Linked DNA regions of Homo sapiens: region 2 is linked to region 1. The links come from fine-mapping of genetic effects on gene expression. A gene starts in region 1. The other region holds a variant in brackets. All regions are shown on one strand. Distances are from middle to middle.

Region 1 (5,382 bases):
TATATCCAAAAATCAAATTTACCTCAAAAGACAAAAATTTTCTACAATGAAAATATTTTTTTAAATGTGAAAGCATTCTGAGAGCAGCATTCCAAAATTTATCAGAAATAAAAGTAACAGGTTAGAGTAAGGATAAAACTTCAAAGTTTTCCAAGGAAGATCATTTTGGAGGTATGACGCGGGTGGAAGGAATGTTAATTTTTACATATAATCTTGGAAAACATTTAAAAGACACATTTCTTTATGTTCATACTTCTATTTGTCCTTCAGATGGTTGAATTTTATCTAATAATAACCAGCTTTTCAAAATCCTAAAATGATTTTAAATGGGTTATGAATTAAAAATTTTCCACAAAGGTTATTAGGGGGTGGGGTGAGGAGGTGCACCAATGTGTGTAAGGATAAGACTTTTCCACTTGCAATCTAAGCACCCAAAGCATGTCAGAGGTGCAAGCTCTAGAAGCTAAAGTTTTGTTGGATGGTAGCGATTTAGAGGGGCTTTCAAGCAGCTCTGAAGGTCTCCATTCATTCCTGAAATTCTGTGTAGTTGAACAATACTGGTTGCATTCAATGTTTTGTTTGTTTCACAGTGTGGTCCTATAATATGAGCTTTTCAGTTATAGTGAATGTTATTTTTGTCATTTTTGGCACTTACAGTTCACAATGCTTGGTTATGTGGTTTAAGATTGTTTTAATTTTTGCATTTTACATTCCTTTTGGCACTTTTGAAGAAGGGACATTGTCTTTTATGTTGTTTGGGGAAAGTGGTAAGCCTCCCCCGTCTCTAGCTTTAAATGTTTGGCTTTATGAAATCCACAACTCTCCCCCAGAATCTTCCATCATTAAATAATGCGAGTGGAAATTTGCCTTCATAAGCTGGCCATTCCAACCGTCTTAGAGGCTGGTATCCCCAGCTTCGGATTTAGGCTGTTTGGTCACTGCCGTCACCGGCTCTGGTGGTCCCTCTCGGCAGAAAAGTACAACTGGATTTTTGCGGGCCCACATGGCCACGTCCCCTGCCACTCCGCTGGCCGGGTTGGAAGAGGACATCCTGTTGCAGGCCCCCAGCCGGTTGGCATAGCGGTTTCGAAGGCGACTGCGGCTTCTGGCTTGCAGACCCGGGCCCTGGCTGGGCAGGAAAGCGTCCACATTCCTAGTCCGGTAGCCCTCCTCGCGGTTGCGCCCTAGGAGCATCGAAATGTTGGGATTGCGGATGGCGTAGATGACAGGGTTGATGGCCCCATTGGCCCAGGTCAGCCAGACGGCCACCACGCTGAGGAGCGAGGGGGCCTGCATGGTCTGGGCCTGCCGGGCGGCGGCCAGCAGCACCAGGAAGCAGTAGGGCCCCCAGCAGCAGATGACGAAGACGATCATGATGAGGACGGTGGTGGCCGTGCGCACCTCGCTGAAGAAGCGCAGCACGCGCGCGTAGGTGTTCACCGGCCGCACGCGCACGTCCGACAGGCGCACCGTCTTGCAGATGTGGTAGTGGCAGAAGCACATGAGCAGGAAGGGCAGCAGGTAGCAGGCCACCACCAGCCCCACGCTGAAGGCCGCGCCCAGCTGCGCGGGGTCCGGGGAGGTCCGGTAGAGGCAGCCGTGGAAGCTCTGCGCCGCCGCGAGTTCCCGGGGCGCCCCGAGCAGCTCCCAGGGCAAGGAGAAGCCCAGGGCCGTCAGCCAGGCGCCCGCCAGCAGCTGCAGCGCGCGGCGGCGGCCGATCTTCTCCCGCGGCGGCCGCACGATAGCGCAGTAACGGTCCAACGAGATGAGCGCCACGCTGAGCGTGGACACGATGCCGAAGCACGAGCTGAAGAAGCGGCTGGCGGCGCAGAAGCCGCGCCAGGGCCCCGCGGCGGCGGCAGGCGCCGAACCCCCGGGCGGAGTGAAGAGGTCCAGGAAGGCGGCGGGCAGGCAGAGCAGCGCCGTGAGCAGATCCGATAGGGACAGCGACAGGATGAAGGCGTTGGTGACGGTGCGGAGCTGCCGGTGCTTCACAATCACCCCCATCACCGCGCAGTTGCCAAGGCTAGACAGCAGGAAGATGAGCAGGAGGACGAGCGCCTGGGCCGCCACTGCAGCTCCGTGCGACAGCAGCGGCGCCGCCTCCGGGCCTAGCGGCCGCCTCACCGCCGCCCCCGCCTCCCGCGCTGCCCCGGACCCGCCAAGGCCGCCGCCACCGGGAGCGGCAGCTGTGCCGCCTCCGCTTGCGTCGCTCAGGTTCCCCAGCGCCGCGGTCGCCACGGTGCTGAAGGAGAGCACGGCCGCCGTGGCCGCGGAGGAAGTCCCGCCAGGTGGGCCGGCCGCGGAGGGGGCGCCGGAGTGCTGGCTGCCCAGTAAGGCCATGCTCGCTGGTGGGCGGGGCGGCTGCGGCTCCTCCATGGGGCCCAGTGGCGGCCGCGGATCTCCTCATCCCGCACCGGGGGCGGCGGCCGCTAGGTCGGAGTGGTGGCTCGGGGCCGGGGGCTAGCGGCCGCCGCGGGGAGCTGGGCTCGGCCGGAGGGGTGGCGGTCGCTGGGGACCTGGCGGAGCCTTTGACGTGGGTTCCAGCGTTGCCGAGGGAACCGCGTGTTTACGCAGGAGCGCGGGGCGGGACGGCAGCCCAGTACCCGCTGCAAAGCCGACCCGCGACACCGCCACTCCGGAGGTTACCGGCCCGGGTGTTCGGGTTTCCGAGAGTGCCAGGTCGACCTCCTGAGGGACCAATGTCCGGCCAGATAAAGTGCCGACTGGCATGCAAACAAATGACCAGATTCAACGAAAGTTCACTCTTGCTCTCTTTTGTAGGGTACAAATGTTCTACAGGCAGGCCTTTTGGGGAGTGGTGGGGGGGGCACTCTGCTTCCTGTGGGTGCTTTTGGTATATACAGGTAGGAAAGGAATCTAGAAAGTGAAGTGAAAGAAAAATCCAGAAGTCTACATCCAGACATCTTAAACTTGAGAAGCAGACTAATTTAAACCAGTAATTCTCAAACTTGAGCTAACAGAATTCACATAGAGGGCGTGTTAAAATACAAGTGACGAGGTCTGAACCCCAGCGTTTCGAATATGTCTGGGGAAGTACCCAAGAATTTGTATCTCTAACGGGTTCGCGGGTGGTGATGATGATGCTGGTCCCAGGACCACACTTACAGAAGCACTGATGTCAAGAGTTTCATAAAATGCAGATTCCCAGGCTGACAGAATTACTAAGGATGGGCCCATGACTCTAAACCCCGTAGGTGATTCTGATACAGGTGCTCTGAGGAGCTAGGATAGTTCCTTTAGATGTTACTTCATTTCCAAGGGCCTGGACCTCAGGCCCCTACTGGCTGATAAATGGGGGGAGAGGGATTGGTGCCTTGCCCTGCTAGCAGCCTTCATCTGTTCTCAGGAATGGGGTATGTTTTGAGTCTAAGGTGCTGCCAGCCTGGCAATCACCACAGATGCAGCTCCAGGTACCTGGCTGGGAGATACGGGGAAAAGAAAGGCAGGGCTACCCAGGGAAGTTGCATCTCAAGTTTCTGGGCATGGCCTCTAATGGGGAAAAGTGTGATAAACCCTCAGGTTAACTAACCCTGGGCTCTTCGCTAAAGCAGTGGTTCACAGAGTATGGACATTGGACCAGCAGCATCAACATCCCCTGGAAACCTTGAGAAATACAAATTATCAGGCCTACAGTGCATAGGATACCCCTGATCTACTGAAACTCCTGTGGTGGGGCCCAGGCACCTATGTTTTAACAAGCCCTCCCAGTGATTCTGATGCACAAATTTGAGAAACACTGCTCTAAAGAATGACTAGTATATTTGTAGATCTTAGAATCAATGGTATTAGTATTGGAGTGCTTATTTCATTCAGAAAAAATATCCTACAGGAAATTTACAGTATAAATAGAAGAACGTTTAAGGTGGCAAACCAAAACTGGGTTTGTCAGCCTAAGCGTCATGGACTTTTGGGCCAGATAATTCTTTATTGCAGGGGCCATCTATACATTGTATGATGTTCAGCAGCATCCCTAGTTCCTACCTACGAGATGCCAGTAGCACCTCTCCCAGCTGTGACAACTAAAACTGTCTTCAGATATTGCCAAATATCCTCTTGGGAGCAGTCAATGCCAGCTTAATCTAGACTGATTTTGTCTTAATTTTGTCAATCAAAGCAAAAATATAATTATCATACATTAATTTATTTGGCAAACACAATCTTCTCAGATTGTGCTTAGTTTTAGGAAACAACATATAAGATAGGAAACCCAGCCCAAATAAGCTTAAGCCACCGGCCAACACAGTATATTACAGTGTGCTAAATATTGTCTTAAAAATATGTGAGTGAAATTATTTGTCTTCCTGACAAAGACTTTGTACAAGAGGTGACATTAGACTTTTTAAAAAAAGAAGAAAGGGAAAGAACATTTGATGAATGTGCAAAGTCTGGAGGTTAGTGTTGAAGTGAGCAGTGTCTGAATTCTAGGATATTGGAGATGGGGAGTGAAGAAGGAAATAAATGATCAAAGTTTATTGGGGCTACCTTATGATGGGCCTTGTAGGCCATGCTCTGGAGACTGAACTTCATCAGGGGAGGAGGGGCTAATAGCATAAGGGAGGGCCGTGAGCAAGTGCATGGTTCAGAAGGACCAGAAGGACTGCACTCTTCTGCTTCCTTCCTTCCTCATCTTTCTCAGTGTCCTCTCCTCTGCCAGTTCATCCTCTTCCACCTGCCTTTACATGCTGGAGTTCATCAAAGCCCTGTTCTCAGCTCCTCTGGACTCCCCCCTCGGCCCCATCTCACTCACATCCAGGACTTCAAAGATAATCTATATATTCATTACTCAAATTATGTCTGTGGCCCCAACCTACATGTCCTGCTACTTGGCATCTCTCTCCTTGATGTGCCAGTGGCACATCAAATGGGTGCATGATCTTCTTCCTACTTCCCCGGTAAAACTTGGTCTTCAATACTCTGTATCTCAGAATATGGTAGAACCATCCTTCTAGCTTTTAAGCCAAAAACTTAAGAGTTTTCCTTGATGAATCCCTCCTCCTTACCACCAGTCCACATCCAATTCATCAACCAAGACCTATGGATTTTAGTTGCGGACTATCTTTGCATCCATTCATCTCCTCCATCCTGAATCTTGGCTCTCATCCTCTCTTTGGACTACTGTTGTCACTGTTGTCCTAACCGGTCTTCCCACATCCAGTTCCTACATTGTAGGCAGCTAGGCATAATGCTCTTAAAAAAATTCTTCATGCCACTTACTTATTTAAACTCTTCTAATTAGGCCAGTGTAGTGGCATGTGCCTGTAGTCCCAGGTACTTAGGAAGCTGAGGAGGGAGGATCGTATGAGCCCAGTAGTTACAGGCCAGCCTGGGCAACATAGTGAGACCATGTCTCTTTTAAAA
Region 2 (5,382 bases), 24 kb after region 1:
CGGGAGGCTGAGACAGGAGAATTGCTTGAACCTAGGAGGTGGAGGTTGCAGTGAGCCAAGATTGCACCACTGCATTCCAGCGTGGGCAACAGAGGGAGACTCTGTCTCAAAAAAAAAATAAAATAAGGAAATATAAAAGAATATGGAGGCATTAATATAGTCATTGTTCATGTTGGCATTTTGATGTCTATATTATTTTTTAAAACATTTAATAATTTTATAATAATTTCTAATTTATGATTTGGTACCGTGTCTTGTACAGTAAGTTGAACATCATGAATCCAGAACATTTATCTGCAGTTATTCTTATATAATGTTAATAACTAGGTTTTTCATTGAATGTTAGTCAACTATTTTAGTAACTTAGTAAAAGGAATCTTCTAAGAGCATTGTACAAATATAGCACATACAATATAGATTTCTTTTTATTTTACTTATGCCCTCTTTTTTATTTCTAAAAGCTGCACATGTAAACTTAAATATTTAAACTGAAATGGGATGTCTTATAGAATGATTTGGGGGGGTGTTAATGTTGTAAAATAATATCTGTACACAAAATATTGGTTTTATATATTATAGGTATGCCCAAGAGGACAGAGAACGAATGCACAGAAATATTGTCAGCCTTGCACAGAATCTCCTGAACTTTATGATTGGCTCTATCTTGGATTTATGGCAATGCTTCCTCTGGTTTTACATTGGTTCTTCATTGAATGGTACTCGGGGAAAAAGAGGTTAGCACATTTCTATGAACATATCTGGCTGGACTAATGTTGGAATAATTATCACTCAGAAGACCTTATTAAGTAATTATGCTTCTTCTGTTTTAAAAGTGGTAAACATGTTTTTCTTTATCTTCAGATTATTCTTAACTGTGACAAGAAAACTTAACAATAGGGCATGACTTAGTAATTTTTAAGGGAACTGTCCTTAGTCTGTTTTACTCTCAGTGATCTTGAAGGAATACTTTTACTTCTCAACTATAATCCTTATTGGTTTTCTACACAAAATTGGTTATGATTACAAGCTATTTATTGTTATGGAACACATTCTTTGTAATTTAATTTAATACTAATAATCTAGTATGATGTAGTTAAAAATGATATAGCTGTAACCTAATACAAAAACTCATATTAACATATTAAATCAGCACACATTTACTAAGCACTGCATTTTATGTTTGGAAGATCAGGGAAGGAGATATAAAAATAACTGACATGGCTTATAGTCATAATCTTGTGGAGAAAACAAGTGTGTACATAATTATAAATCAGTCTTAGAAATGTAGTGGAAGAGTTATAAACAAAGTACTCTGGAGTTACAAAGAACAGAGAGATAAATTATGCCTCATGGGATCTGAAAGATTTCAAAAAAGGAACATTTTAGGCAGAAGAAACAGCATGAATAATGGCATAGAGGTATGAAATATGTGATCTGTGGTAGGCAGGAATGGAAGTAATCTGGGGTAGTCAAGAGTGGGTTGCAAATGAAGAAAAGTAATATAAAGGGGAGTAGGAAAGATAGGTTGAGGCCAGAATGTGAAGGTTCTTGATAAGCATGTGAACTTTAATCTGCTGGGAATGGGAAGTCAAATTCTGCCTTACTGATTTTCTTTTAGTTCCTCCAACTTCTCAGGATCTTTCCTACTTTAGGTTCTTTCCCTTCCTGCAAACTCTTTCTGCTGTCTGAAATACTCTCTTCATCTGACTGCAACTTGTTACCTAGCTACCTTCTTTTCCTTCTGATTTCAGTTTAAAAGTCACTCAGAAAGTTGAGTACTAAAAACAAAACAACAACAACAAAACAAAGAGTGCCCAATTAAAAGAGAAAAATAAGGAAGACAGCCTACTTTCTATTCTTTCCTTCTAGGCCTCTGGGCCTGTGGTCGGACAGGCAGTCTGAAAGACTTCTGAAATGCCTTCAAGCCTTTTTCTCATTGTGTTGGCTATTAGCACTTGGCTCTCTTTTAGCCATGCTAACCTCTCTAGCAAGTTGCTGTACAGCCTGGTTGAATTCCTCTCCTGAAAATGCTTTTCTTCTCTACCACATGGCCAGGCTGCACATTTTCCAAACTTTTAGACTCCGCTTTCCTTTTTAAGTATAAGTCCCAATTTTTAAGTCATTCCTTTGCTCCCACATCTATCTGATCATAGGCTGTTAGAAGCAGCCACAGCACATCTTGGATGTTTTGTTGCTTAATGATTTCTTCCACTAGATACCCTAAGTCATCACTCTTAAGTTCCAACTTCCACAGATGCCTAGGACATGGACACAATGCAGCAGAGTTCTTTGCTAGGGCATAGTATGGATGACCTTTACTACAGTTCCTGATAACTTCCTTAATTCCATGTGAGACCTCATCAGCCTGGCCTTCACTGTCTACATTTCTGTCAGCATTTTGGTCACA[G/A]CCACTTAAGGCTCTAAGATGTTCCACGCTTTCCCTCACCTTCCTGTCTTCTTCTGAGACCTCCAAACACTTTCAGCCTCTGTCTGGTACCCAGCTCCAAAGCTGGGTATCTTTATAGCACTGCCCTACCCTTCAGTTTCAGTTTTCTGTTAGTCCATTTCCATTACTATAAAGGAATACCTGAGACTGGGTAATTTATAAAGAAAAGAGGTTTAATTGGCCCATGGTTTTGCAGGCTGTACATGAAGCATAGTACTGGCATCTGCTTCTGGTGATGGCTTGAGGAAGCTTACAATCATGGCAGAAGGCAAAGGGGAACCAGTGTGAGAGGAGGCAGGAGGCAAAGGGGAACCACATGGTGATAGGGGGAGGAGGTACCTCTTTCTTTCATTTTTTTTAATGTTTTATTTTTTAATTTATCTTTTCGTTTTTATTTTTCGAGACAATGTCCTGGTTTGTCACCTAGGCTGTATTGCAGTGGTGTGATCACTGGTTACTGCAACCTTGACTTCCTAGGCTCAAGTGATCTTCCCATCTCAGCCTTCCAAGTAGCTGGGACTACAGGCGTGTACCACCATACCCTGCTAATTTTTTATATTTTGTAGAGACAGGGTCTCTCTATGTTGCCCAGGCTGGTCTCGATCTCCTGGGCGCAAGCAGTCCTCCTGCCTCAGCCTCCCAAAGTGCTGGGATTATAGATGTGAGCCACCATGCCCAGCCACCAGGATCTTTTAAACAACCAAATCTCACATGAACTCACAGAGTGAGAACTCACTCATTACTGTGAGCACAGCTCCAAGTCATTCATGAGGCTTCCACTCCCATGACCCAAATACTTCCCACTAGGCCCCACCTCACTGAGGATTACATTTCAACATGAGATTTGGAGGGAATGAGCATCCAAAAAAATCACTCCGTATTTGAGTGAATCGTTTATTGGTGAAGGTCTGGTGTATGGAAGTGGCATCATTTGATGTATATTTTAGGAAGAAAATTTCTGTGGAGGGTAGGTAGATTAGAGGTGAGATATTTAATAGAAGACTGTTGTCAAAGAAATAGACTATGGTAGTTGGAATGGAAATGGAAAGGATGGTCAGATAGAAATAGAATCAGCAGTTTTCTGGGGCCTACCTAATAAATCCAGGGTGGTTATTTACATTGGGAAAGCATTTATAATTTTTTAGAATAATTTATAAAAATACTTTAAAAATAGCAGCTTTCATCCAGTTTTTAATTTCTGTTATATTAATAGAATGATGAGAGATGGGGTGAGAAAGGAGATATGACAAAGCTGAAATAGAATAATTGTCCAGTCAATTGGTGGGAAGTTCTCAGCCCACAGTAAAGAAGAGCTAACAGGCATAGGTATGTCTTCACCAAATGCGTTTGAATTCAGACGTCAGCTATGTTTTGAGGGAGAGACTTGAAGCAGAGACTAGAGGGTGGTTTGAGGGAAGGCGAGGAGTGACTAATGCTCAGACAGGAAAGGAGGTGGGTTTAAAAAGAGGGAGTTGTACAACTGTGCTTTGCCTAGGAAATTGGTAACAAGGACCACAAGGGCCATCTCTTACAGTTTCCTGAAATTTTGCACTTACAGTCCAGATAGATGGGGGCTGGAGGTGTCTTAACAAATGTTCATAAAAACTGGGGATAACCCCTGAGCTGATCTGGAAGGATGCATGGTTTGGCAGATAGGTAAAATGTGTTTGAGGTGGAGGGTGATGCATGCCCAGATGTGTGGAGGCACAAGTGAACTTAAAGTCATTTAGCATGGCCAGGAAATAGAGAAGACGATGCTGGTGGGGGTATTTTTCCAGAAAGACAAAAAGACTCAAAATTAGTTTAATGAGAGGAGTTCTAAAATTGTATTTCATTTTGTAAAGATTATGTGTCTGGCTGTAGATAGGTTGAAAGAGAACATGACAAGAAGACCAGTTAAGAAGGTTATCAAAGTAATGGCAAGAAATAATGAAGTTGGGATTTTGCCTCTGAAAATATTAATTCTATAAGGAAGCAAAATGTCAAATTATGTAATGTGAATGTGTGTTTATGTTTTCAGTGTTTTCATCTTTGTAAAATGGCACAGGAGTTCTGTTTCCAACAATGTGAGTTAATTAGGAGCTCCAAGTGACCCACCTGCATGAAATAACTAAAGTCTGGGAAAGATAAACTATGTGAGACATTGCTGGTCCCAGCTGGAGATGGAGAGATCTCCAGGAACTCTTCTCTTTCAAAACACAAACCAGCCCACCCTGAGTTAGGCCAGAGTGACAAGGCAGGCAGTTGGGATGAGAGGGTTGTCTGAGGTCAATTGCTGGTAGCAGCAGTGTTATCTGGATACTGAATCTTGGGTAGCCTCTGCTAAGACTAGACCCTCAAGGGCCTGAAGCCTAAGGTAGTAGTGGCCATGGCTGCTGACAAAAGTAGCAGAGCCTCTTTGCTGGAAAGCTTCCCCATTCTCAATTTAACCCTGTAAGACTCTTGCTCATTAAAATCTAGTAATGGCCTCATAGTCTGTGGTTACTAAATAAAATAGCACTAGGACTTATTGGTACATGCAACAAACAATATATTTATGCTCTGAGAGGACACAGATAATGGACTTTCACCTACAGGATATGTAACTGCTACCTATAAAGAAAGTAAGGATGTAGTCACAAGCTGTCCATAACAATAAGATTATTAGGAATAAATACATGTGATGGGGAAGAAAAGGAAACTTTTAGAAATGAAAGTTTATACTTGCCAAAATAAAAAAAAAGGTAGTCAGCAGATTAAACAGTTGAAGATAGAATTAGTGAACTAGAAAAAAATGCATAGAAATAATGGAATATTGCACTGAGAAAGAAGGAGATGGAAAATCAGGTGCAAGAAGGTGAGATCCATGTTGGGTAGGTGTGGGAGTGGTCCAGGCTTAAAGTCTTACACCTCACAGAAGCCAGTCTCTCTTATAACAATTCCATGAACTTCTGGGG

The links. PIP is the estimated chance that this variant, and not a neighbour inherited with it, causes the effect.
Region 2: its variant is the best candidate, but not a certain one, in a credible set for the expression of GPR135 in T cells (TOPMed, PIP 0.69).

The regions. Positions count from the first base shown.
Region 1 is chr14:59,462,848-59,468,229 of GRCh38, forward strand. GPR135 (G protein-coupled receptor 135) reads right to left here and starts at 2,533. Exons shown (of 1, transcript NM_022571.6): 1 at 1-2,533. The coding sequence starts at 2,379. The coding sequence ends at 895. It also overlaps a transcript of L3HYPDH not described here. RefSeq lists a silencer at 2,064-2,603.
Region 2 is chr14:59,487,095-59,492,476 of GRCh38, forward strand. It overlaps JKAMP (JNK1/MAPK8 associated membrane protein), which reads left to right. Exons shown (of 7, transcript NM_016475.5): 3 at 580-734. It overlaps LOC124903326 (a long non-coding RNA gene), which reads left to right and starts at 741. Exons shown (of 2, transcript XR_007064196.1): 1 at 741-3,772; 2 at 4,467-4,957. It also overlaps a transcript of L3HYPDH not described here. The variant G/A (reference allele first, on the strand shown) is at 2,408.